2 separate regions of the Homo sapiens genome follow, and region 2 is linked to region 1. A link means that fine-mapping ties the variant in region 1 to the expression of a gene that starts in the linked region. Tissue or cell type: whole blood. Region 1 holds a variant in brackets; the other region holds the start of a gene. All regions are shown on one strand. Distances are from middle to middle. Region 1 overlaps NAB1 (NGFI-A binding protein 1). Region 2 holds the start of NAB1 (NGFI-A binding protein 1).

The links.
Region 2: NAB1 starts here. The variant in region 1 is fine-mapped to the expression of NAB1 in whole blood (TOPMed, PIP above 0.99).

The regions. Positions count from the first base shown.
Region 1 is chr2:190,680,802-190,697,467 of GRCh38, forward strand. NAB1 (NGFI-A binding protein 1) reads left to right here. Exons shown (of 10, transcript NM_005966.4): 7 at 2,937-3,026; 8 at 4,675-4,837; 9 at 6,400-6,516; 10 at 9,444-11,965. The coding sequence ends at 9,532. Among named protein-coding and RNA genes, the nearest start is that of NAB1, 40 kb to the left of the region's middle. The variant A/G (reference allele first, on the strand shown) is at 8,986.
Region 2 is chr2:190,642,516-190,659,181 of GRCh38, forward strand. NAB1 (NGFI-A binding protein 1) reads left to right here and starts at 6,568. Exons shown (of 10, transcript NM_005966.4): 1 at 6,568-6,845; 2 at 7,331-7,467; 3 at 13,462-13,638; 4 at 16,643-16,666. The coding sequence starts at 16,662. It also overlaps a transcript of NEMP2 not described here. RefSeq lists silencers at 5,829-5,878, 5,889-5,938, 6,019-6,068, 6,099-6,468, 6,479-7,078.

The sequences.
Region 1 (16,666 bases):
TCTGATTAAATCTGGTGGCTTTTTGGATGAACTTAACAGATATCAGTAACAAACATTTATCAAGTAATTCCTATGGGCCAGGCACTGTGTTAAGTATTTTTCATGAATTTTCTGCTTCCTTAAAATGATTCTGCAAGTTAAGTACTATTGTTATCCCCATTTTATAGATGAGAAAATAGACACAGAGAGATGAAATAATCTACCCAGTATCACAGCAAATAAGTAGTAGAGTTGGGTTTTGAACTCTGCAAGTCATATAGTTAAAGCCCGTCCAGCTTATGAAAAACAGAGCTATAATTTCTGTTTATAGAAATGCCTGTGTTTTTGTGAGTTTCATAAAGGTAGTAACTCTGAATTTATGGACTGAGCATAGGCTTTGAAGCTAGCGTTGTAGCTGTAAAAAAAAGGAAACCCAGTCTTGTCTGTGATGAAGATTAAATGAAATAATGAACATAAAATATAGAACATAGGGACTGGTATATTGTAGACCCCTGGAAAATGATAACCGCTTATATTGAAGTTGTTCTAACTCTTCTACTAGCTTACCTCACTGAACTTGAGAACTTAAGCAGTTCCAGTGGGGTGGGGGTTTGCTAAAGAGAAAGTTGGATTTTTCAGTCTAAATAGAAAACTTATTTATAAGAAAACTGGAATGGCTAAGAAAAAGGGAACTTTGGATTTAGCTTGGACTGTATACACTTATATGAAGTTCATTTTAGCTTATTTTATGATTATGTTCCATACACATCTGTGAGCCAACATGGAAACCTAGAAGAGTGGCTATTTTCAACACTTCAAAAGTGCTAATTACATACTGGCCCATGATAAAGCTACATAGGACCATCTTAAGACGTTAAGTTTATTAGCTCTTGGCTCTATATCATGTCTTTGAATTTTAAAAATAGCAAATTAGTTATTACTTGGGGAATGTATTTTGATAGATAAAATATTTGAAAGAAATCTGCAGTGGAGAAATAATTTATTGAAAAGACCCTGATGGGGGAAAATTTTTGAACCACTATCTTATATCCCAAATAAGGTAAAATATTTTGTTATTATTACATTATTCCATCTTTTTCTGCTGTGTATTGTAAGAACTTTGGTTTTTAAGGATTTGCCCTCTGCTGCAAATATATAGCTTATCAAAGAAGGGGAGAAATAATGTTTTGGAGTTTAATTGTAAATGCTAATTTCTGTGAGGAGTCCTTTAGGAGGTTTCACTAAAGTTACTAAAACCATGCTGTCATGATATTTTGTAGTTATAATGATCATGAGCAATAAACAGTCAAAAAAAGAAAACCTTGAAAAAAGTAGGTGGAATACCAAGTATAAAATGGAAGTAATTTAAGTTGAAGTTTTATCCAGTGCCCCCAGATAGGCCCTATTTATTATGGGAATTTAGTATGTATTGATATACTTACTTATTTAGTAATTATTACATGCTGAAGGCATTATCTCACTTGCTTTATCTCATTTGGTCCTCACAACAATCCTAATAGATAGGTTCTCCTATCCTCAATTTTCCTGTGAGGAAACTGAAGTTCAGAAAGGTTAAGTTACTCATCCGGTGGTCACATAGCTAGTGAGTGGTGACAGGCCTTTCGAATTCCAAAGCTCCATTTCCTGTCATAGGTTATGATAAAGGTGAAATCGCAAGCCAACATGAAGGAATCCTTGAGCAATTCAGGTTGGGATTATCGGTTAGCACTTTAAAGAACATTTAGTTTGGATCGTTAGCCACATTTCATGTAACAAAATTAATTTCAGATAGGTCAGAGGGTTAAATTTAAAAAACAAATCAAACTTTTAGAAAAATTAGAGGGTAGATTTAAGTACTGAACCAAATTTCTGAAGCAGAATTTCTCTAAACTTTATAGCAACAGTTGAAATCACAAAATAAAAGTATGTACAACTATAGCATATAAAACAGGCATATAAAAATTAAATGATTTTTGAGTATCAAAAGTATAGATAAATTGGCATAAATTAAGAAAACAAGAATTCTTAGTGCTGACAAGGAAATTGTCATGTATTGCTTGTGGTATGATAAACTAGTAAAGGCCCTCTATAGGTTTAGCGAAAGTACATAAGGCACAAAAATATCATCTCTGCAGTAATTCTGCTTCTGGGAATCTTTTGTAGTAGATAATCTAAGCTATCGAAAATGCTATCTCCATGAAAATATTTTTGCAGTGTTTTTCATAAAACCAAAAATTAGGAAAAGAATAAAAAATGTCCAATGCGAGGATAGTGGCTAATCAAACCCCCCACTAGGTTAAATGTTTTTTATGTGTTTTGTTTTTGTTTTTGTTTTTTTGAGACAGAATCTCACTTTATCACCCTTTGTCACCCAGGCTGGAGTGCAGTGGTGCAGTCTCGGCTCACTGCAACCTCCGCCTCCTGGGTTCAAGCGATTCTCATGCTTCAGCCTCCCAAGTAGCTGCCCAGCCTCCCTAGTAGCTGTGATTTCTGGCGTGTGCTACCACTCCCAGCTAATTTTTTTTTTTTTTTTTTTTTTTTTTTTAGTAGAGATGGGGCTTTACCATATTGGACAGGCTGGTCTCGAACTCCTGACCTCAGGTGATCTGCCCACCTTGGCCTCCCAAAGTGCTGGGATTACAGGCGTGAGCCACTGCACCCAGCCTAGGTGAAATGTTATATAACCGTTATTATCAATGATCATAAAGCCTTCTTTCCAGTGTAAAACAATAGGAATGATGACATTTTTCATCTTATTTATGTTTCTACTGAGGTTACAGCTGTAGAAAATAATGTATGTTTCATAAAAGGCTGAAATGAAATATTTTATAACCATTAAAATCTTAATCATGATTATTCAGGTAGTGAGATTAAGAGTTTGCTTTATTTTCAAGTTTTTGATAATATTTTATTATTTACAAACTCTAAATATAAAGGACTTCTTATTTGACCCACAGGATGGGTTTCCAGATTTCCAGGATTCTGTGCAAACACTCTTCCAGCAGGCTAGAGCTAAGAGTGAAGAACTTGCAGCTCTTAGTTCACAGGTAACATAAACTCCCAGTTATTACTCCATGATAGTATCTGAAGGTTAAAAAATAAATGACTACTTCAACTAGCTTCAGTTTTAAGTATCTGAGGCCTGACTTTTTATTTCCGTTTGTTTTTTAAAACGTCATCTGAGCCACAGCTGTATCAACATGAGAGCAATAACAACTTGGTTTGATTCAGTTTATGAACGGAATCTGATATGGTGCTACTTATTTATTCTTGTAGTTTTGTAGGAAGTGAGACAGATTCTCTGCTCAAGAAAACTTAAACAGTTTGATAATCAGGAAAACCAGCCATGTTGACCATGGCTGTGTGTAATGCAACTCTGAGATAAAATAATACTAGTTCTCAATAAAATATTAATAGTCAACATTGTAATTATTGTTAAATCTTTTAAATTCATATTTATTGAAAAACTATTAAATGAATATGTGGCTTCAGGTGCTTTTGCCATTAAGTTATTTAATTTTGTCTGTATACTGAAATTAAAATTTTAAAATGCTTTCTGCAAACATCATCTTTTAGAAAGCACTGTAAACTTTTATTCCTATTGAACAGCTTCTTTGTAATAAGTTGCTTTTGATCAAATTTAGTACTGCTAAGTTTTGTTTTTTTCATGTTAGGATGAAAAATACATTTTTTACCTCAGATATGCTTATTTAAATTTTGTCAATTTAGTAACAAGTTCAAATGAAATGAAGTTGTAGTTACTTTTGATTTGGTTTATATGCACTCAGAAAAATAGTGTGTTTATCATGTTTATTCTGTGAATTAATATATTTTACCTACTGATTTTTACATTGTGAATCAGGGCATTTTGTAACCAATTTTATATAGCAGCTTTCTTGTCCTACTCTCTTATATAGCATGGTAGTGATTCATATCTGTGCATTTTGACTATTATCTCCTTGGCAAAATACCACAAATACACTGCTCTGAATATCACATATAAGTAATTTAGAGCAGTGCATTGAAAAGGAACTTATAAAACACATACAGAGATAAATTTATATGTCAGTTGACTAATTGTATATTTAAAATATGCCTTTTTATGATTGGTTGGGAAATACTGCAGTTTCATTTCATGATGAAGGTAAAGATGCTTATTGGCACTGATGTTTTTCTGCATAATTTACATTGTTTAATTTTAGTGGGAAGTGTATTTGTCTTGTTCTTCTAGACAGCCGTTTTACACCTTTTCTCCCCCAAACATATTGTCATCATATCAGAGTCTGTGTACTGCCAGATCCTAAAATAAAAATGCCAAGATTTCGCCCCAAGTGTTAGAAGTAGTTTATAGCAGATGTTGCTGTTGCTTTTAGATTTCTGTTTTAAAAAATCCTTTAAAGGACTTAGTACCTTGGAAAACAAAGCTAAGGTTATGTTGCTTTTGAGCTGACATGGAATTCTCTTGAAAGAATTGAGAAGAAAGCTTTTATCTTTTGTACAATATCCAGCCTTTTATGTTTTAACATGATGATATAGACATCTATGCATATTTATGGAATTTGTATACCACATGAAGTGTGAACTAATTTTAATGAATACTAAATATATTTGCTGGAGTCTGAAATTGGCATCTTTAAACCATTAAAAAATCTAGAATGTTTCAGTTACTGATTTGATTTTTGCTTTACTTACTAGCAGCCTGAAAAGGTGATGGCAAAGCAGATGGAGTTCCTTTGCAACCAAGCTGGCTATGAGAGACTGCAGCATGCCGAGAGGAGGTTGTCTGCAGGGCTTTACAGGCAGAGCTCAGAAGAGCACAGTCCTAACGGCTTGACTTCCGATAACTCAGATGGACAAGGTACATCTTTAGAATATCCTATGCCTTTAGGGCCACTATGTGCACTTCAAAGAGAAACAGAAGACAGTGGCTGATTTTTAAATTATGATATTTTGTAGAGATTATTTTACAGGTTCTCTTATCAAAATTATTTTTTGAATTCTTCATTTTTCTAAAAAGATAATTTATCCTGCAAATTTTAATTTGTAAATTTTTTAATCTTTAAGCAGTTGGCACCTGAGATTGACATGTATTATTTTGTAGGGGTTGGTGGGAATGTGAGATGTCAACAGTACAGATTATTTTCCCCGAAGAAGCAGATTCCGGGAGAGATGTTTATCCTTTTTAAATGACCAAAACTTCATATTTTTTTAGACTTCAAAAACAAGTTTGTGAAATTTACAGCATTTGGTTCTTAAAAGAATATGGTGACTGCATCTAAAGTGTTATGACAGAGTACAGCTCAGGTTTAGAAAGCCATGTGATTCGTGAGTGTTTTTACCATTCTAAAAAGTACTTCATTCTTTTCACATCCTCACATAAAGAAAATCCCAAGTCATTGTTATTCACCCAACCAACAGGCATTTTATTTTTTTAGCAATTCCTATGTGCCAGGCACTCTCCTAGGCACTGAAGATGCAGCAGGGAACAAATCCCTGTTTACCTGGAGCTTACATGTAGTGGAGGGAGATGTACAGGTTATATATCCTCTAGTTTCAAATAGTAATAAGTGTTTGAAGAAAAAAAATAATTTTATAGTGCCTCCTTTTTATATATTATTGTTATACTTTTCTAGAGAGTGGTTATTATTGTAAAAAAATAAAAGGATTCCTAGGTAAGGATACCATCTTAACAAGGATTCTCCAGCCATGGACTGAAATATTACATGTGTCAACACATCAGAGTACTGGAAGAGAAGAAAGTTCTTCCTTTTAAAAATATTACAGGAACCTCTGAGTTGAGGTCTTGTTTAACTTCTCCAATTATCCTTAACAGTTAAGAAGCAAAGGCAATTATTAAAGATTTGGTGACTCTAATTTGTGACACCAGGATAATTCAGTGTGGGGTGACAATTTGCTAATGTGATGGATTTCAGTACATGACAACATGATTGGGTGTATAATTTTTTCCCATATTTGTGCTAAATCTGTTTTTTCACGGATTTTGCTGTAGTTTTTTTTTTTTAATCTTTAATTGGCTTGAAGCCTTCTGTGTCTTTCTAGTACTTGTTATTATATGATTAATGACATGCCTTGGTAAAATGGTTGTTCTAGTAAGAAAATGCCTTATAGAGGAGATGTATTATATGCCAAAACTGGAATGCTCACAGGAATTCTCAGTCTTTTGTTTAGCTCTTAAAAATATCCTGGCAGAATTGTAAACCTTGGGACTGGCATGAAATGACTTGCCATTTTCCTCTTAAATTATTATTTAAAATGTTTTTTCCAAGTCTTATTTAAATTCTTCAGTGCTCGTTGACTCTCCTCACTTTTTTCCTAAGGAGTGTTCAGGCAAAATTTATTTTTAAGAAAAACCATGGTATGTTTTTAATATTATGCATATTTCTTTTTTCTTTTCATTAGGAGAAAGACCTTTGAATCTCCGAATGCCTAATTTACAGAACAGACAACCCCATCATTTTGTGGTGGATGGGGAGCTGAGCAGACTTTACCCCAGTGAGGCAAAGTCCCACTCATCAGGTGAGAACGTGCTATATGATGAGAGGGTAACACTTGAATAAAAGCATCTTTAAATTCTGTTCTATTTCCTCCCCCATCAAAAAAAAAAAAAAAAAAAAAAAAGTCATTACTGACAGTGTTCCTACAGGTTGAGTATCCCTAACTGGAAAATTCGAAATGCTTCAGGATCCAAAATGTTTTGAGTGTCAGAATGACACTCAAAGGAAACCCGCATTAGAACATTTCAGATTTGGGATGCTGAACCTTTGGTGTAATGCAAATAGTCCAAAATCTGAAAAAGCTCAAAATCCATAGCACTTCCTGGTCCCAGGCATTTTGGATAAGGGATGCTCAATTGTCAGTTTTTCTCCCCTTGGAAGTGGTAGATTGCCATAACACTGGCTGCTCTCACTAGTCTTTTTGCAAACTTCATATTCCGAACAATGACAGGGAAAACTCATGAAAGTTGAGATTACTTTGATTAGCCATTATATGAATGGTGATGTTTATATGAAAGTTTAATAATAAATAGCTGGTTTGAGTTGTGTTACTACCTTTTTTGGCAATAACATAATATGAAATTGATGGACTACATGTTTGCTTTGACAGTGAGAAAACCTTGTGTATCAAAATCTAGACTTTTCATGCAGATGTATTTTGGAGGTGATACTCATATTTCAGAAGTAAACTGAATTCCATAAAAGGATGAGCAGCTCCTTATCATAGTTAGATATTTACATATTTTTATCCAAGTAAAGTGAGTTAGACCTAGTTAAAGCATTAGAGACCAGCACAATTTGAAAGAATCTGTTATCATTCAAGTCTTTGAGTTAAAGTAACTTTAGGAGTCACTTAATCAACGTCACTGATTTTATAGATGAGGTAGCTAAAGCCAAATAAATAGCTCCAAATTTGCATTGTAAGTCAGCGGGAAATGTAGTTTTACAAGCATTAGGATTAAACCTGACTTTACATCTGTTATCTAGATAGAATGAATTATGTATTTACTAGAAAAAAAGTGTTATCAAGAGCATTTATGTCTTTCAATTTTAGATCATACTCTTGGTAGCAGATGCTAAAAAGACGAGTTCTAAATAATGTTCTGGTACTGTGACTTTAAAGCATGCTATTGCATACTTGATTGTAGCCATTTTAATAATGTCAAAGGGAGGTTGGGAAATTGAAATTATCCTAAAAAGATGACATCCTGGTCTCATGTTTTCCATAACACAAAAAAAGTGATCTTTAAAGTTTTTTCAAAAACGAACAAAAAACGACTTTTTACCAATTTATATTCCTTAGAAGACTCTATGTAACAGGAATACTCCAATTACATTGATCATGTGTCTCATCATGGGGCATATTTACATATTTCATGGAGATATATTACATAGAGATATAATTGATCTAGGTTTTTAGGTAGAACCGAATGAAGAAATGCCTGAAAAAGCGTCTTTCTTTCTCTTTTTCTTTCTTTCTTCCTTTCCTTTCTTTCCTTCCTTTCTTTCCTTTCTTTTCTTTCCTTTCTTTCTTTTCTTTTCTTCCTTTCTTTTCTTTTTTTGAGATGGAGTCTCGCTTTCTCGCCCAGGCTGGAGTGCAGTGGCTCAGTCTCGGCTCACTCCAGCTCCTCCTCCCGGGTTTACGCCATTCTCCTGCCTCAGCCTCCCGAGTAGCTAGGACTACAAGTGCCCGCCACTGCACCTGGCTAATTTTTTGTATTTTTAGTAGAGACGGGGTTTTACCGTGGTCTCAATCTCCTGACCTTGTGATCCGCCCGCCTCGGCCCCACAAAGTGCTGGGATTACAGGTGTGAGCCACTGTGCCCGGCCACCTTATTCTTTATTTTTAACTGAATAGGAATAATACAGGTTTCATACAGTGCAAGCCTGGGTCCAGATCTTAGCACCGATACTTGACTGAGTGACCCTGACTGAGTTACTTAAGTACTCGTCCTTCAGTTGCTTCATTGGTAAAAGAGAAGTAATTTCTACCTCGTAGGGTAGTTAGGAGGATTAAACAAGATAGTGTACCTGCATCGTACACTATCTATTCCAGCCAGCAGGAATTCAATAAATAGTAGCTACTTTTTTTTACTACTCTTACGCGGAACTTAAAATCCCCTTCTGTTTAGATAGAGAGGATTCATAAATTGAGCTATTTAATTTCAGATAAGCTATTAGTATTGATTACTTTCTAGAATCCAAGGTGTGAGTGTATGTGATGTGGATGTTTGCATGTATATGTGTGTGTACATATCTCCCAGTATTTGTACTTTACATAAAGGTTACATTTGATTGTTATTCTGTAGTGTTTGTGTATGGTTGAAATAACTGTACACATAGAACTCCATGGAATGATTTCTCATGAAAATAGTGTTCATTATTTTATCCCTATTTCCCCTACCTTAATATGTCATTGTCGGAAGAACTTTAAAAAATAGTTCCAAGGTTATGAAGATATTTTTCAGTCTGATTCCTTCATTGATGGTAA[A/G]TATTTTAACCAGTAACAGTTATTTATGAATAATCAGCTTCCTTTTATATATTTATCATGTTGGATCAAGCATTAAATAAAAATTAATATATTCTATATGCTAAATGTTTTATGTGCATTTCATTATTTAACTTTCGTGCCACTTTATGTAGATACTATTCCTATTTTATAAATGAAGACATTAAGGCTTAGAGAGGTGTATAACTTGCCCAGAGATGTATACATCTATACATATATGTATACTATATGTATACATCTAGTAATTGGCAGAGTTGAAATTTAAATCCAGAATCCAAGCTCTTAACAGCTCTATGAACAAAAATTTTGCATGGAATTACAGAATCATGAATAGTTGATACTATTTGATATGGAGTTTGGGGGTTTGTTTTAAAACTTTGTTTGATTTTTGTAGTCCATTGATTAAAATATCAACTCACTTTGTTTCCATTTTTATGTAGAGAGCCTTGGGATTTTAAAAGACTACCCTCATTCAGCTTTTACCTTAGAAAAGAAAGTCATCAAAACAGAGCCTGAAGATTCAAGATAGCTGTGATTTCTCTCACCGTTCTCTGGAAATGGCATCAGATTTAAGGATAATACTCCATCATAGAAATAAGCCTTAATAACCAGTGTTGCCTCATTCAGCTCAAACAGATTTCATAGCCAAAGCAAAAGGACTGGTACGGTAGTCTGTGGAAACCAGGAAGATAAAACAACAGCCACAAAAGAGAAAATCAAGAGTGTTGCAATCTATAACAGTAATATTGATTCATTCACATTCCTGTGTTAAGTCATTTTATATGGAAAGGCTTACAAATCAATATTGTAAGCATTCATTATTTAAGAATGTACAATGTATTTGTGTAATTTATAGAAGTAAAATCTAGATGTTGAGACCTGTTTGGTCTAATAGATGTGGATACAGTTTATTTTACTTGAAATTTTGTTGTCTACTTTGTGTGTTTAACGTAAATATATGTCAGAGTTTAGAATCTGCCTGCAGTTGTGAAAAAGAAAGCTTAAGTGATGCAGTTATTGGCAAGATTGCAATGATTATGGAAAAATAGAAAGCGAATACTCAGTTTAAGCCAAGGAAAATATTGTGGATTTAATATTTGATAAAACTGATTTTGTTTAACAGGAAATTTTTAGCATTCAGTCATATAACATCTGGTTATCAATGCACGTTTACACAATAAATACTTGAGTGGAGGAAAGTTAAAAAGATGAGCAATAGAGTAGAAAATATATCTTAAACTAGTTGACCTAGATTGTATTAATAGCTACTTAAGATGTTTCAAAGATAGGAAGCTATTGCTTGGACAGAGAACTTGAAATAAGTGGACCCATGTATAAAAGCTTTGACTTAAACATTGATATTTCAGAATGTGTTAAATAGATTAAGACACAGTAAGTTAACCCTACATGTTATAAAGATGGCGACTGTTAACAAAGGCTGTAACAGATTAAGTACTATTTTATATCCAGAAAGTCTTCTCTATGTAGAGAAGTCAGAGAGACTAGATGCTTTCACTAGGGAATGTCTTCCCACCCAGCCATCACAAATGTGGACAATCACTGCATCCACATCTGTAGGCATATTTCTATGGAAGTTTAATTGACAGCTATATTCATTATTTATTTTACAATTTCATTTTTCTACACCTTTGAGATTTATGAATGCAGTTTTTTCTTAAAATTTATTTTAACTTGACAGTATGTTTTTAGTTCCCCCAATTTAATTAATGGACCATGTGCATATATATGGGAGTGTGCTTACATGTTAATAATTTACTTGCATACTTATGAGAATTTCACATTGGAATTCATAATGGTAAAACAACATACATCTGCCAATATACGTTTTTTCTGTTGGTTTAAGAGAAGATAACTGACAGCTTTACCTACTTCCTACAGATGCATCTAAACCCAGATATTACTGAGAAGAGTGTATTGACTCTGAGTGTAAGAGAGTATGTGTTTTTTTGTTTTTAGTTCTGCTCTAGATCATAATTGTAAAAAATATTAAGTCATAATCTGTTACACTAAAATTTGTCAGCCAAATGTTAGATGAAATGTCTGCACTGTAGTCTCAGATCACTGTCACGTATATAAATTGCTTCTTCATTTTAATTTGTAGAAGTACTTTACAGTAGGAAACGCCAGTAAACAACTTTTATACTGTTAAAAGGCTTTTTTCCCCTTCCTAAATGTTTTAATTGTACCATAGTGTTTTGCTCACTGAAGAAGCTTCTTATGGACCTTGCAACTTTGTTGCTAGCTTGAGGTTGATTATTGTGGTTGTATTGTTCACTGTGTGTAGAAATAGTATGAGTACGATTTCAATAGACTGTTCAGTTTTTAATATTAGCCATAGCACTGGTTAGTATATCTCAGTAGTTTCATGAAACGTTTCCTGTATTCTAATCTATTTTGAAACATTTTGTTTTTTTTTAATTGTGTCTTACAGTCAAGTTTGTAGATTTTCATAAGCCACAATTTTAAAAGATGCAGTAATCTTCCAACTTCCAATATTTATCCATTCGTTGTGGACCCACAGATTGCATCTTTAAATTCATAATAAGTTTCCTTAACTATCTTATGTTTCTAGTCTTTCAAGCTTAGTGATAAGGTGGAAGCACAAGAAAAATTTCAGTAGAATACAGTTTTTATTTTGTAAACACTAATGTATTAAACTTGCTATACATTAAAGCAAATAATATATATTTTTATTTGAATTGTATATGTGAATTGGAAGTTATAATTAGTTGATTTTTTCATTTTGTTAGAGGTATTTTCACTGAACAAGGTCAATTGGTTACCTCAGTATTACAGCCAATATAGTCCAAGGGACCATTTCTCCCCGAGTCTCTTACACTTTATTGTGCGATGTCCACGTTTTTGTGACTCTTCAAGCTGTTGGTGAGGTGGGACGAATGCACTTGCTTCCTGTGGCAATAAAGATTTTCTGTGCCTCACACATTTATGTTTATAGCATTTTCTACATAGAAGTTTTCCAGTGACTAATATTAACCCACTCTACCTCGCTTATCTGCTTATTTAAGCTGGGTTTCAGTATTAAGGGACAAGAACTTACGTCTTAGGTTGGGACTAAATATTGTCAGCTACCGTCATTTCTAAAAAATGATTTGGTAAACAGGTTCTCAGTAGACTCTTGTCTGGCAGAGAGAGGTCAATTTATATTCTCATTTATGTAGAAGTTTATGAAGACGTTTTTAAAACTTCACCATTTCTAAATATTAATAAAAGGAACATTAGGATTTAACATCTATAATACATATATGTATAATATTAATGTGATTTGGGTTCAGTGTTATGGGTTAATTATATGAAATTGAGCTAACCTGTAGTAAAGAACCAGGAAGAACCTTTCAGCAAGTATTGATGAGTTCTATAGATTAATGAAGATCATCAGTGTGCCAAGCACTGTGCTAGGTGCCAGGGAAGAGGTAAAGGTCACAAACGAAATATATGATCCTTGCCCAAAACCTAGCTGCGTAGGAACTAATACCACTCACATAAAAATTTCAGTGCCTTACATATTGGGATGAGGAGCTGACATTTAAGTGCATTCTGTATTAGGCAGACATTGTGGTAGCAGGCACTTCACAGGTGAGAGAAAGCACATTCAGTGAGTGAGATTCAGAAGAGATCGGTCAGGACTGAAATCAACATTCAGAGGTGGAGTTTGATAAAAAGCCATAGTGGCAGTACATTTCACTTTGAGGCTGCTTTTTTGTTGTTGTTTTTGTTGTTGTTGTTGTTAAATTACTGCAATTTTATTTTGAAACTGCATGGCAGTTAGATCTGCTTGCCTGGGTAATCATTCCTTTGACGATCCACTAAATCTGTCAAAAGGCAGCGGGGAAAGGTGCTTTTCATCTGTCCTTAATTAGTGAAACCACTTGGGTAAAAGCTTTAGGATTTGGTAATTATGAGACTACTAGCACCTAGTGTACCTTTACAACTATAGTTGACACTATTTAAGACTTAAAAGCTAAATAAGTATGCAGGGAATTTCCTAACTTATGGTCTGTCCACTTGGGTCTCAAAATAGTTAAGTATTATTAACACAATGCCCATTTTGCTTGTGACTTAATGTACTACATCAAGTCTTCAAAAGAAAACCAAGGTATTAACCAACCTGATGAAGCCAGAAGGTCTGCCTCTTTTAGGAAATCAATTCAATTAGTAAGTAGCTGAAGTTAGAATTGAACAAACCTTGTATGTTTGTAACAGCTTGAATGACCAAATACAGTAGTTGCTCTTTTACTAAAAGCCACCATATGGTCCAGCTGTGCATGGGTGGTGTTTCAGGGAATGCAAGCTTCTTATCTGTGGGTGTCCTCATAAATGAAATTTGTAAGTAGGCCTCCAAAGTTAATAAGAGAATGATCCAGTGCCTGACATTTTTATTGTAAATACAATTTAATATCAAAAATCTTACTGTTAACTATGTCCATAGTGATCCTGTAAGACAATTTTTTATTTCATGTAGAAGTGATCAAAAGCAAAATGCTGGAGCTAGGATTTTTCTTACTTTCTGAGTATGCAACAGTTAAACCTTTAAAACATCTTTGGGAGGCTGAGGCGGGCAGATCACGAGGTCAGGAGGTCGAGACCATCCTGGCTAACACGGTGAAACCCCATCTCTACTAAAAAAAAAAAAATAGAAAAAAATTAGCCAGGCATGGTGGCGGGCGCCCGTAGTCCCAACTACACGGGAGGGTGAGGCAGGAGAATGGCGTGAAGTCGGGAGGCGGAGCTTGGAGTGAGCCGAGATCATGCCACTGCACTCCAGCCTGGGCGACAGTGCAAAACTCCGTCTCAAAAAAAAAAATCTTTGGCATCTGTTTCTGCTGACCTATGACATTTTTTTTTTTGTGATCACCTCAAAGGTGTTTTTTTTGTGCAGAAAAGCCTAATCAGAAATTTATTTTTTAAGTTCATAATCAACTTATTAGAATGCAAAAATGTATTGTGCTTAAGGTTAAGTTCAGCTTACAAATCTTTACTTTCTAAGTTTAGCAAATCGTAATCACTTTTAAGGGAACTGTGAACTGGTTCTGTTTACAAAGTTGGTTAATTAAGCCTTACTCTTTTATAGTCTTCCCATCTGTTAGGTCACACAATTCTTAAGTGTTAAAACGATGTCCTGTTAAATTCTAGGTCTCCCAGCTGTGTTTGACTATTTGGTCACAATTTCCAAATTGTTATTCTGACTGCTAAGTGATTTACTTTCAAAGTATTGCTCCAATAATGTTAAAGGTCTGGCTTCTACCACTTCATCTTAAAGGAATTTTTAATGAGTTTTTTTTTTTTTTAGCAATTGGGGTAAAACCCTCAAGGAACATCAGACTCACATAAAATAGTAATCTTAGTTCTTATTTCAACATCCATATGAAATCCTTAGTTACCATTATTTTTCCATTTTATTCTTTTAATTTTAAAATATTTGACAAAAAGATATTGAAGTATACAGTGTGATGGTTTTTTATACCAGTACATTGTATACTGATTACCACAATCAAGACACTGAAGTGGGAAATTACCTCTCCTAATTTTTGTTGACTTTATATTTAGTGCACTTTAGTCAATTTAGTTATTAAATATCTTAAGAATAACTTTCAGTAAAATGTTTAAAAAATTTCCTCTGCACAGAGCATTATGCTACATTTATGTAAATCGAGAAACCTACCTAAATACAGTTTTAAGTTTTAGAAGTTTCTATTGAAATGTTTGCTTTATTATACAATTCTATTTAAGTTTTCCATTCTAACTTATTAAAAGAATCAGCTTCTTCAGTCTCTGAGAAGTAGTGATAGTTCAATGTTGACATCAAAACATAATGTTGCAAAATGTAGATTAAGTACATCACATTGGTTCAAGATGGTAGTGCCACACATGTTAAAATCATGAACCCAATAATTTTTCTCACTTACTAAGAGTGACAAATTTTGTGAATTTCCTGTTAGTCCAAACAATTTGGTAATCAACCTAGCCTAGTTTTGCTGTGGGTGAGCACTAGTGATGGTATAAATTAGAATGTGCTTCATATGTACACATTCTGAAACCTTATGAGTCATCTTTGCATTAGAAGTTTGCACCTCATAAATTTGTTCCAAGTGCCATGTTCAACACCCACACATAATCCCAAGCAAGCATGGCCATTCTCTCGTAACTGTCACAGACACCCTATGTTGGCAGGTCACTTAGGCTGCAGTATGTAGGAAGCTAGTTAAGTAGTGCATACGTAGGTGGCATCTTACTGGTAACTGTTTCAGCAGAGACATTTTATAATTTTCTGAGACTACCTATCGTCTTCGACTGTGAACTGTTAAACCAAACGTCTGTGGTCTAGCACCCACCATACCCTGCTATTATCCTTCCCAAAAGACAAAGTGATTTTTTTTGGTAGCATGTTCTTACACTGTAGGCTCTTCAAAGTCTCATTGTTTTCATTATTTTCCCCCAAAAAGTATGTATTTTCCATCCCCAGATCCCTGACAACATAATGTAAGCATGTTTTTCATCAGCAGTTAAAATGAACTAGGTCATTCATTTTCTTTTTGAATTCAACCAATGTCTCCATCATCAGAAAATGCTCATACATTGACTTTTATGAGTTTCTTTTGCATATATTGGCTAACTTTCAAATTGGAGCACATCTTTCTGATTTTTATTGGTGAGAAGGCAACAGAAAAATTTGTATAGTGAGATAGGGACATCGCAGATACAGCCAGGTACTTGATTCCAATTCTTAGGATAATAAAAGGCAATTTCCACTTAAAAAATTAACATTAAAGGGGAAATTAATTAGAGGTTATGTAATTTATTCAAAGAGAGAACAATTTTAATATATTTTAATATTTAAAAGTGAGAGGAGAGGATTCCATTTCTCAAGACTTTTCCATTTCATGTCACAGGTATGTGACAGCTGGCTTATAAGGGAAGTCACTTTTTCTATGATTTCTTATTTAAAAGACAGGATCTAGTTCTGCCTTGCAAAGCAAAAGATTTAAAACTCAGGCTTATATTCTTAATCTGGTAGGTAGTGCCATATAAAAAATCCTCCATTTCCTAGCACTGGGCCAACTACTTTACATGTAATCCTCTGCAACTCCAGGAGGTACTTATCACCCCCATTTTGCAGATGAGAAAACAGACGTCTCAAGAGATAATAGTTATTCCACAACTAGTAGTAGGAACTTAAGCCAGTCACTTGTTCATGAGCACCCGATCCTGTCAAATATCCTTTGAACTGAGTGGCCTGTACTATGTGTAGACATTTTACATGGTAAACACTTTATAGATAAAGCTTGAATACACACATGTGGAAAGAACTAGGCCATATGTGAGTACTGATCAGCTGGTTGTTAGTGGTGTCTAGCCTGCAGCAGAGGCTTCCCAAAGAAAGTAAACATCAAGCCTTTCTGAAGGCAGCTACTGAAGCGGAGAAGTGAAAGGGCATTGCAGGGCTTTGGAATTAGCATGTCTGAAAGGCCCAGGTTGGGAAGCAGAAAAGCTACATTCCAATACCACTGGAAAATGTAATGGACTAAAGCAGAAAATTCAAATAAAAGTTTAATTAGATATAAAACATCTAGAAAAGAGTGCCTACTAAATGAAATCCTTTGAAACTCATACAAAGTTCTCATTC
Region 2 (16,666 bases), 38 kb before region 1:
TAACTTGTCTTTAAGAAACTTGTTTATAATCTCTATATATTTAAAAATACTCAAATTTCCATGCATTTAAAAGTTTATTTAGTCTACAATACACTTCCAAAGCTTTGAATTTCATATCGCAAAATAAGGGAAATTTTAATTATATTTCTGGTAATATGAATATTCTACATGACTCAGTTAATTGTAGGGCTACCACCACACAGAGTGGAAAATTTGTTAAGTATAGAATTGTTCTGAGGCAATAATAGACGAGAATTATATTATACCTTAGATCTTGTAGGTCATAAGCCATAATGTTATTCTTCCTCTCCTCTAAGAACATTTTAAATCTATTCTTTTGTTTGGAATTACTGAAGCATTTTAAAGTAAGAAATCTTTCCGAAAATAATAAATTAATGCTCTTTTAGTGAAATTTTCATTCAAATGTCAAAATCACTACCAACTTCTTACATTTTTTTTTTTTCACTGAAAACTTTTTTTTAGTTTCACAAAGTGGAAATGGTTAAGGTTTTTTTTTTTTTTTTTTTTTTGGGTCAAAAGAATCCCTTATTTTTGCAAATGCTAAAATAATGCACTAATCATTGAGCAGTTTTAATAACAATTTCTTAAAACCCCTTTTAAACATATATTCACTGAATTCAAGAGAAGTATAACACATAGTTGCTCCTTCCAAGGGGGCTTACTGTATACTTAGGATGAACATAATTAAGTAACTAAAGATGCATAAATAACTATAAGCCTTCCATGTGGTACCAAAGAGAAGTGGAATGGGAGTTAGGGAAAGCAGAAGCTACTGAGGGAAGTGGAGCTCACAGTGATCTTCAAGGAAGTTAAACTGGAGTTTTAAAGATGGGAGAAACACTTGTGTCAGTGTTTCTGAAACCTCCAGCACTGACTTGGCTGCTTAGAGCTATCTGTTTAATGGTCCAGACATGGGCTGTGGGACAGAGATCTTGGCCTCAAAGCCTGGCTCTCCCATGTTACCTAAACAGGTAATTTTAGTACCCCATATTTCAGTTTCCTCAGTTCTACCAGAGAATGAAGTGAATAATAGTGCATACTTTATAGCGCTGTTGCGAGGATCAGATGAATTAATACTGATAAAGTGCTACCAGCACTTATTAGGTACTCGATACATGTTAGTTATTATTTTCTTGCACCACTAAAATAGCATTTATCCTTGGGAGGTGAGCTTCAGCCCAGGAGTTCGAGACCAGTCTGGCCAACATGGTGAAATCCTGTTTCTATAAAAAATAGAAAAATTAGCCGGGCATGGTGGCACGCCTATAGTTTCAGCTGCTTAGTAGACTGAGGTGGGAAGATGACTGGAGCCTGGGAGGTTGAGGCTGCAGTGAAAGCCATGATTGTGCCACTGTACTCCAGCCTGGGTGACAGAGTGAGACCCTGTCTCAAAAACAAAAACAACAAAAAAGAGAGTTTACTTAATAGTCCTCATTTTAAAATTAAGGGTCTTTGCTCAAGGAAATGTATTTAAAAGGTATTTTGAGATCGTTATTCTAAATGCATAATGAATCTCATTTGCCTCAATGGAAGATAACCATAAAAACAAATACAAGGAAAACAGTGCTATTAAATTCTAGCTATATACTGAGGCCTGCCAAGGCTCTGAGCTGAAGCCTGTTTCCTCATTGTAAAAAAAAAACAAAAAACAGAATTCAGCAAGTATTAGAAGGATTACAGACATACTGGCACCAATTTAAATTTCCTCCTTCGAAGGACTGAAAGAATTGAAAAGGGAATAGCTTGTTCAGTATGTGGTTTACTGCTATTTAATGCCAACGTGCATCTTCCATCTCGAATCATCTCAGCATGCTTCTGTACTTTGACAGAGCCATCAGAAGACAATGTGAAGGAGCAGTGTTCATTTACCATTGACTGGTCTTGTGTTCAAAGGTGTGTCATATATACTGACTGTATATTGTCAGTGGCATACATTATATTCTATTTTCCATGAATTACAACTTCCATTCAGAAGCACAAAAAAAATTATTCTCTTTCTCTAATTTTTAAACCTGAGAGCAGCCATAAAAAAGAACAGGTTCATGTCTTTCGTGGGAACGTGGATGGAGCTGGAGGCTGTTGTTATCCTTAGCAAACTAACACAGGAACAGAAAATCAAATACCTCATGCTCTCACTTACAAGTGGGAGCTAAATGATAAGAACTCATGGACACGAAGAAGGAAACAACAGACAGCGCGGTCTACTTGAGGGTGAGGGGTGGGAGGACGGAGAGAGGCAGAAAAGACAACTATTGGGTAGTGGGCTTAATACCTGGGTTATGAATTAATCTGTACAATGAACCCCAGTGACACAAGTTTACCTATGTAACAAACCACATGTGCCCCAGAACCTAAAATAAAAGTTAAAAAAAACACACACACACAACTTGAGAGAGGAAATCTGGTTTTCTGAGAGGGGAAATAAACCTGGTGATTTGGCTGTATACTGTGACACACTCTACAACACGGATTAAAATTATGAACACGCCTGTAAAATAAGCTTCTCCCAAATCTACTCCTAACAGGTAAAAACAAAAACTAAGTCAAGAAGGCTTTCAAATTTTTTAAAAAGTGTTTTCAAAATTTAAAACCATACAAGTGATATTTATTTAAGACATCAGAAGTAGCTCTGTCTTGCCCTTACTTTTATATATAAGGAATAAGCCTGGGATGATATTTGCAAGAGATAGAGTTAAGAATAAACACATGAATAATAAATAAAAAAACAGAATTTGATATATTTCTCATACCACTTTCCAAATGGTGTTAAAAATTCAGAATCTGGTGTATTTATTAACCCTTTGTAATTTATTTAAAAATAAATTTTGTGCCTAAAAATCTAATATGAATTACTTTAGGAACATTCTAAAATTACTTCACAATTTACACACTGCTTCAAAACATATTCTAACTCTTAATATTTTATTGAAAATGTTATATATTTAATCAGAAGTAGGCATCACATATTTTAGACACTTCTATTAGGAAATACAATTCATACTAATAACATCTACAAAATACAAAATTCTGCTAGTTCATATTTTCCATTTCATTTATTCAGCAAATATTTATTAAGTGACTAGTATGCGTCAGCCAATGTTCTAGCCACTGAATATACAGCAGTGAATAAAAAATTCTGCCTCTTGGAAATTACACTCATGTCCTTTAGGCTCTTAATGAAATGTAACATGAAATGTGATTTTCCATGTATAAGAAAATTATTTTTATTTTACTATTTGCATTCGACGAAGTATTACAAAAATAATATAGTCTCATTCCTTAGTAGTTTTTATATTCATCTTTTAGAGTGCATGAAAAGACAATCAAAACTATAAACAGAGACAAAACATTTTCCTTTGTCTTTTAGACTTCCTTCTGTTCTCCTTATTTTCACTGTTTTATAGCAAAGCCCTGCGGGCAGGGAACCATCCATGACTTACTTGTCTTTGTGTTCCAAGCATCCAGCCCTAAACCTGGCACATTCTTGGTGCTCAACAAGCTGTACTGAATAAATGAATAATTTCAATATACAGGTATTTATAATAAAATCACACCAGGAGAAACCAAAACTATTGCATGGACGTTTAACAAAAGATATCCAAAGTGGTCTGAATGGCAACTATTTGTGTTAGCACATTCTTACACCTGTCTGGGATGCCTCCAAGAACACTCTAAAGCCTTGAAACTGTTTGATCTCTTCCAGAGGGCCTTCAGAGGATAATCAGACACCATAATTGTTACCTTCCAGGATGGAATGTGAATCTCTTTGCTTTCCTCTAACAAATCCTCAGGGCGTGGGAGTGGGAGAAGACTGTGTGTGTGCTGGAGTCGGGAGGAGGTATTAGGGATGGCATGAGTGACAAAACCTGGTAAGGTGGAAAAAAAGAATCCATCGTCTGACTTGACTCAGATACAGGCGAATGCTTCAGTTCTTTTTGAGCTACCATATTGACTACAGTGTTGTCATACAGACATACAGAATTGGATGCTTAAAAGCTTAAAATTTTATCTTTCCTTCATTTTCCTTCCTCCCACCACTTCCCCCAGCACCACAGGGCATTTAAGGCAAAGTAAAGTGGGCCAAAAATGCCATTCTTAATGTGGGAAGAATACACTATCTAAATGTGCCCAGAAAACAAACAAGGATAGATTCCACTGTTTAACTGTAGAAACCAGATACAACTCAGAAGAAAAAGTATCTGTCCTGACACATTTCCTTTTCAGCATCATGTTCAGCCAGACACAGACAAGCTTGGGAAGAGGATTTAATGTTGTTTCTTCCAACTCTGGAAACAATTCCACTAGAAGGCTCAATAGTTCAGGTAAGACCACTCATTTCGTGACTCATGAATCCGTGATTATACATCTTTACGGAAAAAAGTTCTTTTTTTCTAGCTTTCAGAACCAAGAGTGTTTGCAAAACATCAAGATTCCATAGAGGAATTAGAAGAGAATTTTGCAGATTTCGTTGCCTGAACATTACCTTCCCCACCAACCAAGAAATTGCCTAAATCGTCTTTAACATGACCATCTAACTTTCTCTTTAGTAGAACAGGATCCACAGCTGCAAAAACCGTGACAATTAGGGAGACTAAGAGAAACTTCCAGCAGTGATTTCTGCAGTTAAAGAATTTCAGGAATTAAGCAGACTTATTCATTTGAAATATCAACTCAACTACTCCAGACAAAACCTGTCACTAATACTGAAGAAAAAGATTTAACTTTAATTATATGTATTCCATTGCGGCATTACTCATTTCTATAACATGATTTCGCAAAAAGAAAAAAAAAGGTTCTGTACTTTATTAAAGTCTTTTTCTTTCAATATCATCATCATCATCCTATCCCTTGCTGCAACATAAAGATGTGGTTTGAAGAATTTCCCATCTCAAAGAATGCCTTGTATCCCCATCAGCGAAGTAGGCACACTCTGGGAGGCCAGCCAGGGTGTGGGAATGGCCTCCTATAAAACTTGATTTTTATGTGTATGTTAAAATGGGATTCTACCTGTCTTTGCAGTAGTTTTATATTAATGAATGCTCTCTAATCTTCAAGAACACAATGCTAAAATTCTTTAATTTTTCCACTTTTTGCAAAGAATTGAAATATAGATTTAAAAAACAGACTTCCAAAATTTTTTTGGCAATAGCTTAAGTACATTTTTCTTCTTCTTCTTTTTTTTTTTTTTTTTTTTTGAGACTGAGTTTCGCTCTTGTTGCCCAAGCTGGAGTGCAATGGCACGATCTTGGCTCACTGCAACCTCCGCCTCCCGGGTTCAAGCTATTCTCCCGCCTCAGCCTCCCAAGCAGCTGGGATGTCAGGCATGCGCCACCACGCCCGGCTAATTTTGTATTTTTTGTAGAGACGGGATTTCACCACGTTAGCCAGGCTGGTGTCCAACTCCGGACCTCAGGTGATCCGCCCGCCTCGGCCTCCCACAGTGCTGGCATTACAGGCGTGAGCCCTGGCCAGCCTAAGTACATTTTTGAAGGTGCTTTAATACTTTGGTTAGCAAAGTTTATGCAAACCAAAAAATTCTATATTGTGCCTTGGGAACTCTAATTTAGCACACACCAGCACTATACTAGCGCCGTAGTTTTTCTACACCATGGACACAAAAAACATTAAACAGTAAAATAAAAGGCAGATTTTCAGGAGGTTAAAAAGGTTGGAATTAAATTACCCGGCCAGCGCGACAGTTGTCAAAGCTGTACTTCGGACTCCCTGGTTCCATTCCTCCCTCCTCCTCCCGTCCCAACGCCAGAGCGGAGGTGGGGAGGGGGCAAGATGGGCGAGGCAGAGATGCTCTCCCAGCCGCCGGTTCTTCCAGCGCCGCGCACCTGCCGCCCCTTCCTCCATGCGGTCGCTGCAGCCTTCCCGCCGGACGCCTCGCCCCCCCGGGCAGGGGCGCACCTGGACCACCTGCCTCCCCGCCTCTGCCCCGAGCCTGCGGGGGCCAGGGGAGCCCGGCGCGCTGTTGTTTTTTTTTTTTTTTTTTTTTTAAAGTCAGCCTCCTAGAGGATGTTGGATTTGGCGGGTGTGCTCTTTGAAATACTATATCGGGAACCTCACACATAATTTTTTTTTTTTAATTGCAAACCTTCCCAGTTCACTCCGCAGCTGGAGAGCAGGCCGGAGGCGGCGTTCCCCACCCGTCTCCCTCTTTGTCGTCCCCTCCCCGCGCCCGGAGCGGGACTCGCGGGAGCCGCCCACTCCCGGCGCCCACTTGGTTCCTCCCAGCTGCCGTGTGAATGGGCCGTCCTCCGGATTCCGCGGAGGGGGCGGCGGGAAGGGGCCGAGCCCCGGGCCCAGCGGCCGCCCCCGCCCCCGCCCGGCGGCGGCCCACGCCGGGATCTGCGTCACTCGGCCGCGCGTGGGCGGGAGCCGGAGCGGCGAATGTAGCAAGAGCGGAATCTCCCAATGTGACAGCGCGGGGTGGGGGAGTGGAGGCGGCGGAGGCGGGCGGGGGAGGGGGAGGAGGGTGTAGCGCGCGCGGGGAAGGCAGGGGAGGGGAGGGCAAGGCGCGGCGGGGGAGGCGCTGCCGCCGCCGCCGCCGCCCGCGCGCCGCAGCCTGGAGGAGCCGCCGCCGCCGCCGCGGCCAAGCGAGCGCCGTCGGGGCGGGTGGGCGGGAAGAAGCGGCGGGCCCGAGGTGGGGGGGAGCAGAGAGAGCGCGCCCACCACCTTCCCTTCCCCCCTCGATGGGAGCGGGGGCGTCCCGGCTCCTGCAGCCGCCAGAGGAGGGAGAGCCGGGGGCCGTCGCTTCGGAGTTGGGGCTGAGCAGTCCTCGGGGAGAGCGCGCCAAGACCGCTGCAGCCGCTGGCTGAGTACGTACCGGAGCGGACGGTCGCCACTCCCGGTCCGCCAAGTGCGGGACACTTTCGCGGCTGAGCGGCCACGGGCGAACTTGGGGCGGCTGAGTCGCGGGGCCACGCGGGCACTTTGGGGGCGGTGTCCGGGGGAAGCGGGCTCCGCGCGGCCGCCGCCGGAAGGAGAGGGCGGCCCCGGGCTCGTGTGGGCGATTCCCGGAGACATTCTGTGTGCCAGGGCGGCGGGGAGCGCGGCCCTGACTCGTGCATTTTCCCTCCGAGAAAGGTTGGGGTGCCGAGTCCGTTTTGCTAACGGGGCTGGGGGCGTCACACGGCGCTCTGGGGGTGTGCGATGTGGGTTGTGCGCGCCGGCCCCAGAGTTTTGCAGCCACCTTCGTCAGGGCAGTCTTTTTGTTTGTTTACTTTATAAAAGTGCTGCACTTACCGTCTCGATTTTCTTCTTGGGTATCTTCCCTTTCCGAATGTAGTTTTCTTTTTAAAAGCGGAAGGAGAGTTTTACATGGAAGTGGCTTACAGAAACTTGGCGCTGAGGTGCAGGGAAGCCAGAAACTCTTTGTGTCTCTAAGGCCGATGAGGAATTTGGAAACACATGTGGGACATACAAGCGTTGGATATAGAGGTGTGTGTGTGTGACCTTATCATGGAGAAACACTGAAAATACTATCAAATCTTTGTGGTCTGCAAACTCAGAGCTTCCAAAGCTTGAGATAGGAAATGACACTTCTGTTAAGCCTGAATGTTGCAGGATCTCGGGGAAAGGGATAGTTGAGATGGAATATACATTTGTCGATTCTGCAGACCAAGCTTTGCAGCGAGTGATCGGGAGGAATCGTAGACTTGCATGTACTTACACCTCGCTCCCTGAGATTCGGGAGGCACGGAAAATTTTGGGATGGCTGTTAATTTAAAATTTCATCTGAAAGAGTCGATTTGGAGTAACTTGTCACTACCAGTTGGTTTGCCAGTGACGTGTCTGCCAACTCAAAGAGTGCAAAGATCAGAAGCTGAAAGAGGAATTCTCAGATCTTGTTTAAAAATATTTTGGCAGTTTTAATAGATAATATGAGATTGCATAGGAACAGAGGAGCCGAATTTAAAATAGATTAGTCACGTAGGAAATGCTTAGCTGTTGTAAAAGTGTTCACGCAATGACTTACCTTCCTAGGTTTTCACTTTTTTGAAAATTTTTCCCTGAACAACATACTGAATTATGATATTTCATAATTTGTGTGTGGGTTATAAGAAGTATGAGGAGAGAGGATGCATAGGATTTGCTTTTTCTGTTTTGGGTGGAGATTGAGCTTTTCCTGAAGACCTGAAAGAGCTGCTTCTGATCTAATCTGAGTGCCAGTAAAAGTGGCTCTTAGATGAAAGGCTTTTTCTTCTCCATATTGGTGTCATTTAAGACATACAATATTATCTTTAAGTTTAAAAGATTATATTTTTTCATCGGTATTAACATACAAATAAGGGTTTTCTTGAGTCTTTGTAGATGACTGGCTAGGTCAGCCTTTTTTATCCCTGATTTGGGTATTAGATATTGGAACATTAGGTCTTGAAAGAAAATTTCAAGGAACTTCTGGAAGAAGCTTTCTTGTTTCAATTTTATTATTTTTACCATTTTGCACTAAAGTTAATATGCCATTTCGAGATTAAAAATGTTTTTTTCCCGACTCTGATGGTCTCTTGTTACTTGTGAAGGTATCAATAATAATGTAATAATGACAACATTGAGGAACTGTAGATTTTTATTTTATTCTGCCTGCTAATTATGGATGTAATTCAAATGACAGAAATTCTTAGGATTACTATGGTTGTTACAAGGACATTTAGTAAGCTTATATGTCTAGTAAATAACTTGATCTATCTAAAAAATACTTTATCTCATCTTATTTCAAAATTATTCAGTTGAGTAATCTCTTTTTTGTAAGTGGCAAATAACATCCACTGTCGTATGAGAAAGTTAATAGATGTTTATTCTCCTTGTTAGAGAAACACTGAAAGCATTAGGTATTTTCATCACGGTATAGCTAAGAACCTATTGGTTTATTAAAGATTTTGGGGGTTTGCACTGTGGATGCTTCTTTGAAAGAAGAAATTATAAACTGGGGGACATCTTTGATGAATTTGTTAATGAACTTTAAATATTTAAAGTTCAGGTTGGATGAAAACAGAAGTATGTCAGTTTCTAAAGAAAATATAGACATGGGGTCTCGCTGTGTTGCCCAGGTTGGCCTCAAACTCCTGGGGCCAAGGGATTATCCCACCTTAGCCTCCGAAGTTATGTCAGGTTTCATTGGCCTAAGACTTAGGACTCATTTATTCCATTATAACAAGCCTGGAGCTGTTTTTTGTGAGTGCTATTTATGTACATTTTTGGAAATGAAATCTTTGTAAAATTTACCTTTAAATGCAAAGCTGTGTTTTGGATGGAAGTGACCATTTTATAATATGTTTTGAACAGTTTAAGATCATGCTAATGTATAATCAACCCGTCTATGCATATTTCATTGTGGAATTTGCTAAACATATTATAGCATAAATAATACCCACTTGAGCATAATAGAAGATTGCTAGACCCTTTGCTTTGGATTTATTTTTATCTTACCTGCTTCTTTTATCCTTTTCAACAGTAGAATGAAGAATGGTACAATTGTTATATTAAGTGCAAATTCCCTTTCTGATCTGACATGTTCAATAACTCATACAACAGTAGAATATACTCCTTAAACTTAATAATGGAGCAAGTGGGAAATTTGACAAGTTGATGCTTGGAAAAAATAGTAATCCTCATCTTGTGAGAATTCACACAGCTAAAACATGCCATTAAGCTTTCAAAGAGTTTGTCATTTCTCAATACATTGTATTTAGGGGGTGACCCATTAATTTGCATGGTATATTAATTTAATGATTTTTACAGAGAAACTTCTGAAAAGGTGAAAAAAACTTATAAATATTGCCTGCATACTCTGTGCTCAGTGGGTACTTAATGTTTGTTGAATGACTTGATGGTTGGTTGGTTAAGAATTTCCAGCCATTGTACGAAATGCTAGTATTTGCCTATTGTTACTATAGTTAAATGAATAAATACATAGTTATCATTTAGCAAAATCTGGTTTAGTTTTTTCTAATTTTGGCAAGTAAATTTAACCTCACACTGAATATTTTTATTAAAATTTTAAGGTGTCTCTAAAATTTTTTTCCAGCTTCATTCATTCCATTCAGAATTTAGAAACGAATCAATAAGAGACAACATTTTAAGTTTCCCAAATTACAGTCAATTCATTAGAAGGTATATATTTAATTCATAGCTAAGATCCAGAAGTATCTTGACTTATATGGTACACCACTGAATGCTTACTAATATGTGTGCCTAGGTAAATCACTGGAAGCTTGAAACACATACATGGGAGTTAGTACCTAGGCCAACCCTACAATCTTAAGTAACCCATAAAGTGTAGCTGAACTATATTTAATCATTTTAGCTTGAGTTCTGGGTCTAGGATGAGAATAAAAGCGAAAATAATTAATTGCATAGAGCAAGCTTGTCCAACCCGAGGCCTGTGGTTGCATGCAGCCCAGGAGGGCTTTGAATACGGCCCAACACAAATGCATAAACTTTCTTATCAGCTATCGTTAGTGTATTTTTTGTGTGGCCCAAGACAATTCTTCTTCCAGTGTGGCTCAGGGAAGCCAAAAGATTGGACACCCCTGACACAGAGGCTCATCCTTCCCTAAATCAAATTCTTGTTTGTTATAAACCTTTTCTGTTTCAGCCTCTCGTGTACCCATTTCACCCTTCTCTCAGGCCCCTGTACCTTCAAGCTATACTCTCCTGAACTTGGAATACTTCAGAGGCTCTAAGTGTAGTCTTTCTGTCCTCAGATTTCCTATTTTCATTGTCCCCATTTCCCATCTCAATCTTTCATTAATGTGCATCAGATCTTGTCTAGATGTTAAGAAGAAAACAATCTGATGGAACTAATTTACCTTTATCTGTAAATGACTCATGAGCTCTTAACTCTTCCCAAGGTTTTTCACATTTTTTGTAAGTCTGTAAGAGGTTGCTATTAACTCAGATAATTTTAAAGTAAAAATTGCAGGCTGTGTTGGGGGAAGGAATTTCTAGTCTTATGCATAAATAAGTCAGGCCTTACTAGGATTTTGCCCGTGGTTTCTTCCCACTCCTGGAAGTGTGTTCATATGTGTATTGCTATATATGTTTGTGTATGTGTATCTAATAATGATTCCCATAGCATGGAGGGGAGAAGATGCAAGAATAGTGATTATAAATCCCTTTGAGTGTATGGATCATTAATGAGATAGATATTTGATGATAACTTACACCGTGTTTAATTTATAGGAACAGAGAAGAAAAAGACCTAGGATCTCATGACTGAACTTGAATTCTTAAAAGGCAGGTGTTGGGGCCGGACTCGTTGCATGATGTATAACACTAACCACTTGTAGTTCCTGTATTGGCAGGAACTTTTGCTTTCTTGGGAGAATAGCCATGTTATAGGAGTGCACCGTATAGCTTTTTAAGAAAGAAGAAGTATTAAGGATGAGAGAATGAAAAGGATTGTAGGTAAAGTAACAGGATGCCCTGTTATTGGATTGGCAATTCATTGAGATACTGGTTTACACAGAAGGCCTCCCCTTTGGAATATGAAAGGTTGCTGATCAGATTCTGACTCAGACATTGGGTTTCATTGCACAGCAACCTTTCCAGAGATGTTATTCATCATTGAAACTTTGCTAGGAATAAATGGGGATAAAAGAGTAATGAAACCTAATTCCTACCCTTGGGGTGCTTATAACCTAACAGTGACTTGTTCTGCAGAGCCAGGCAGGTTGCCTTCCTTGTGCCATGACTCCTTCACAGCTGCACAGCATTTACCACATTGTTTAAGTCTCTGCTTCTTGTCTCTCCTTGCTCTTAACTGACTCTCCATGAAGGACTGTCTTTCCTCTGTTCCCCAGAACTGGCTTAGTTGTTGGTGTTATTTGAATAAGTTCAAAATGTAAGAGAGACAAAGTGTTGCGGGGTTCAGAGAAGGGAGATGACAGCTGCAGCCAGGGGTAGTGGGAAAGACATTTTGGGAAAGGCTGTGAAGGTTGGAGGGAGAGAGGATGCCTGGCACAGGGGCAGGGAAGTGGAAGGCATATTTGAGGAATGCCTAGTGTATCTGCTTGGCACAAGTATATGGGCATGTTAAGGAACAGAGAGAAGGCTGGAAAGATAGGCTTGGGTCTGGGATGCCTATATGAGTAGTTTGGATTTCTTTCTCTGCACTGGTGGAGAAGTTCGCAAATCTGTAAACTTGGCATTGCAGTGTGGGATCTATTGAAGGTGAAGGAGCTTTTTTCAAAATTGGGGCAAGAAGCAATGAACACTAGAATTTGGTGCTTTTGAGGCAGAGAAAGAAGTGGTGGTGTAGCCTAAGGACATGTAGATTTGAGGAAGAAAGAAGAAAAAGCAAAAATGGAATCCAAACTTACTTAAATCCGGGAAACTGAAAGACCAATGGTGCAACTGAAAGAACTAAGAGAGTTGGAAAGAGTAGACTTGGGAATCTGGAAGAAGGGCAGAAAATGAGAGAATGTACTTGATTTTGGACACATCAAATTTGAGGTTTTGACAATGCCCAGGTGGAATGCCAAATTACAGTTCAGAAGAACAGTTTGGGCTGATGGTTCTGAACTTTTCAGGTGTGAGGATAGCTTTTTAAATAAAAACTTGCAAATATTTATGACTACTTTTAGTATTTGTTTTTTGAGAATACATGTAAAGACAAAACAAAAATTCAGCTATACTGTTAAGTGAGTTTTACTGAATAACAGAAGTGTCTATTTACCTTCATTTGCAAAGTAGACGTGTGTGAGAGGCATCTTTTTCACTCAGCAGTTGGTGCTTTGTGTGTATTTGGATTTGAGAACACTTGGAGTGACTCCATGGCTCTTGTCCAAGCTACAAATACAGATTTGGAGGTCATCTGCCTATAGTGATAATTAAAGCCTGGGAATGGGTGAGATCATCAAAAGAAAATTATGGACACACAATAGAAAAGAGATGTAATATAAAAATTTGGAGAATTCTTAGAATATAATAGGTGAAAGAAGGAAAAACAAATAATATAGCATTACCAAAGTAAGGTGAAGAGCATCTCAAGGAGTGATACCATGCAGCAGACAGATTAATGAGAGAGAGGCCCAGAGTTTTGATAGAATGGTGAGCCCAGAAAACAAGCTGGCCTGAGTCAGGTTTGAAGGAATGGTTCTTCTTTTCTCTAGTGACAATTAAAGCCCTCTGTCCTATCAAAAAATCCTCACATCCCAGCTTGGAGACTGTCAGGGAAATTTTGTTTTCCATAGCGAAACAGGAGTTGACCGGTAGTTTTGTGGGCCAGACTAGCTCCCTGCTTCACTTAGCACAGTTGGAATCTGGCAGGTGACTGATGCTACCCTGTAAGGAGCCAAAGTGAATTTTAAAAAAAGTTTTGGAACAAATGATTACCGTTTAAAAGATCAGTGAATAACAACAACAAATGGTCTTAAATTAATGCATTGTTTAATTCCTCTTCCCCTAACATCATTGGGATTCTTTTTATAGGACTGAGCAGGGGGAGGAACATTTAAGCTGATGGAAGTGGAAGTGGAAGTTGCTGTACATTGGCAGCAAGGCCTCCGAGTTAGCTTTTGAATGCAGTTAACTGGTTTCTCTTAACTGTGGAATTCATTGAAAAGTCAGACTCCGAGTGGTCGTTCCAGGATATCTTGAAAAGCCCAGGTAACAGTAGTTTTCAGCTGAGTGGATTTACAATACTCTAAGCTACCTGTATATAACGTGTTAAGGACCCATTTTATATTTACTTCAGATTGGAGAGAGGCAGGTAGAAGCTTTCTTTTGACTTATTTGACCTTCATGTTGAATCATTAATGGTTATAGATTTTATGAAAACAGAAAATCTTGTAAAAGTTTTCTTTCAAATCACATCAAGTTCATGTATGAAGGGGTGGGTGTTTAAATTATCACAGCCGGCTTTGGAAGGAAACTGAAACATTCTCTTAAAGCAAAAGCTTAGGAGGAGAACTCCTTTTCCAGTAGTAAGTGTGGGCCTCTAGAAAGCCTCCAGGGACCGAATTGGTTACTTAGTTATGTTGCATCTGTTATCTTGGCTTTGCAAATGTAGACTTGGTCCTATCAGTCTTTATGGAGATATTATATTCATAACTACTTTCTTACCCATGCAGAGGGCTTTCTCTTAAGAACTAGGGGGTTTCATTTTTTTTTTAAGTGGGTAAAGATGAGAAAGGATAAAACTTGAAAATTATTTTCTAAAATCATTGCCTTATCTCAGAAGAATAAAATATAAGCTTGAGTCTTTTAGTTCTTAAGTTTCTCTTTTGTATTTGTCTAACATATATTTTTTCTTATTGCTCATAAAAAGATTTAAAAGTATTTTTCCAGATTTCCTCATGTAATCTCTGCTCTATTCCATAATGTGAGGAGCACATATGCTGAGTTAATTGATCACCCTGTAAACCTTGCAAAGTTACAGTCCTCTTATTAAAAAAAGATAGTGTGTGTACTACTGAGAAGCCCCATGTCTTGGAGCTTCTGTGTCTTCCACAGTCTATTTTGATCATGTGTATGTATATACACATTACACATGTACTTTTTTTTTCTGTATTGCGTTGAAAGCCTATGGAGGAATTGCACGAGGTGTATGATAGGAAAGTAAATGTCCTTTCTTCCACCTCCAACACTTTATAGCAGCCCTTCTATTTGGTATAGTGTAGTTTAATATAGCTCTAAACTTGGGTCTGTAACTCCTGAGAGCTCTGTTTTTGTGAGTTAGTGCCCAGGTGGATGATAGATTCTCCCTGGAGTGGGAGGACAGGCAGAGCCTCCTTTAGGTGATTTAGAAGATGCAAGAACGTTTTTATCCAGAGGACTGAGGTGGCATGAATGTGAAGGTTGACCTAAAGAATTACCTGGGTCATCACAGTACCTGTAGGAGTTTGTGGTGCCCGGAGGATTTATTAAGTAGGAATCTTGTGCAGTGTGTCATATTTGCCTAATCATGGAAGTCTCCTGAGATGCATCTCAGGCACCTGGGAAACTGTATTTTTCAAAAGCACCCCAGGTGATTTCCTGGGTTTTAGTAGAAGCTACTGGGCCCTAATTCAGCCTTTGTTGTCTTTTGGGAAGTCATCAGGTAACCTGGTTATGCCCATACTAGCCCTTGCAAAGAAAGAGACATAAAATTTGCGGAAGTCAAAACAGATGTGGATGACACAGAGGTTCCAGGAGATGGGACTTCCGGTAGTCAGTGCTTAGAGTGGTAGGGACACCCATTCTCCTGGCTTGGAGTGACTGAGACTAGAATTTTGTGTAGCATTCTGATTGGTGGCATAAAACAAAAGTCCCAAGTTCAGTGACTTCTTGGCTTTCAGGGACGTCCCAGTTAACTATTGCTGCATACTGTCAGAGTTGAGAGTGGGTCTTCCATTTTTCTCTGATGCACATATTCTTTTAGCCTTCTGTTATTTTCTCCATAGAGGGCTACAGGGTACTTTTAATCCTAAGGGTGCATTTGATTACAACAAGTTTATTTGTTTCTCTTAAATGGAAGTACTTGGCCAACTCCTCTTTGTATGTGGGAGGTCTCCAGGCAACTGTGAACAACTTTTAAAGGCTGCTAAGAGGTCAAGAAGTACTTTGCTGAGTCTTGTTCTGTCTCTTTAAAAACAGACTTCTTTGTCTTGCTTGGGCTCAAAAAGTATGTTTCTTCCTTGGCTCTGTCTTAGGCTTTCTGCTGCTGCTTTGGAGTGATCACCCACCCTCCTTATTTTATCCTACAGCCCTCTCCCTGATACGTAGTTAGATTCTAGTCTATTATTTTGCATGCAGGGCCATTCTACATAAGCCTTCTACCCTGTGCCATGTGCGAGTGCCATGTGTTTGAAAGGGAATCCCATCATCCTCATTTTTCTGTGTCTCCAGTGCCTGTTAGAATTCTGAACTCTCAGATGTAATCTCGTAGTCACCTGTAACTCTTCCCTTAAACCACAGAGTGTCAATAAATGGTAACTGTTTTCTTCATCAATAAATGTCAATAAAGAGTAACTTCCTTCCTCACTTAGATCTAAGTGATCACCAAGTCTTGTCAGTTACTTGTTTGACTTTTCTCTACCTCTTCTTTCTTGATTCCTAAATTAACACCTTCTATTTCTCACCTCCAATTCATACTGAAATCTATCTTCCTCTGCCTGCCAGACTCATCTTGCTCATTTTTTCTCTATAAAATGGGAATAACTGTACCTGTGTCACAGGGCCATTGTGAGAATTAGACATACGTAATGTAAAGTGTTTATTGTATTGCCTGGCACAAAGTAAGTATTCAGCAAATGGTTAGCATACTCTGCTTCTTACCTCCTGCTAAATTTGACTATCTTTCACTCCACCTGCGTCCAAACCTTGGCAGTAGCAAAGTATATAGCCAAAAATACGGGACATGGAACCTTTGGTTTGATCCTTGGTTTGAACCTCCAGATTCCTGCTTACCATTTATTCTCTTTTGGGAAAGTACGTCAGTTTAGTTACTGACCTATAAGGTTTTTAGGAGTTCAGAATGAGATAAAGTATGTAGAGAGAATGCTGCCTTCACAGGCAGTCACGATGCAGATGCTTCTCGTTTTTGTTCTTAAAACCTGTAGTGTAACCTATTTGGTGTAAGGAGTTTGAAGCAAGTATGATGAGTTTTTACTTTTTTTTTTTTTTTTGGCAGGTTAAACCCATCCAGAGTAATGGC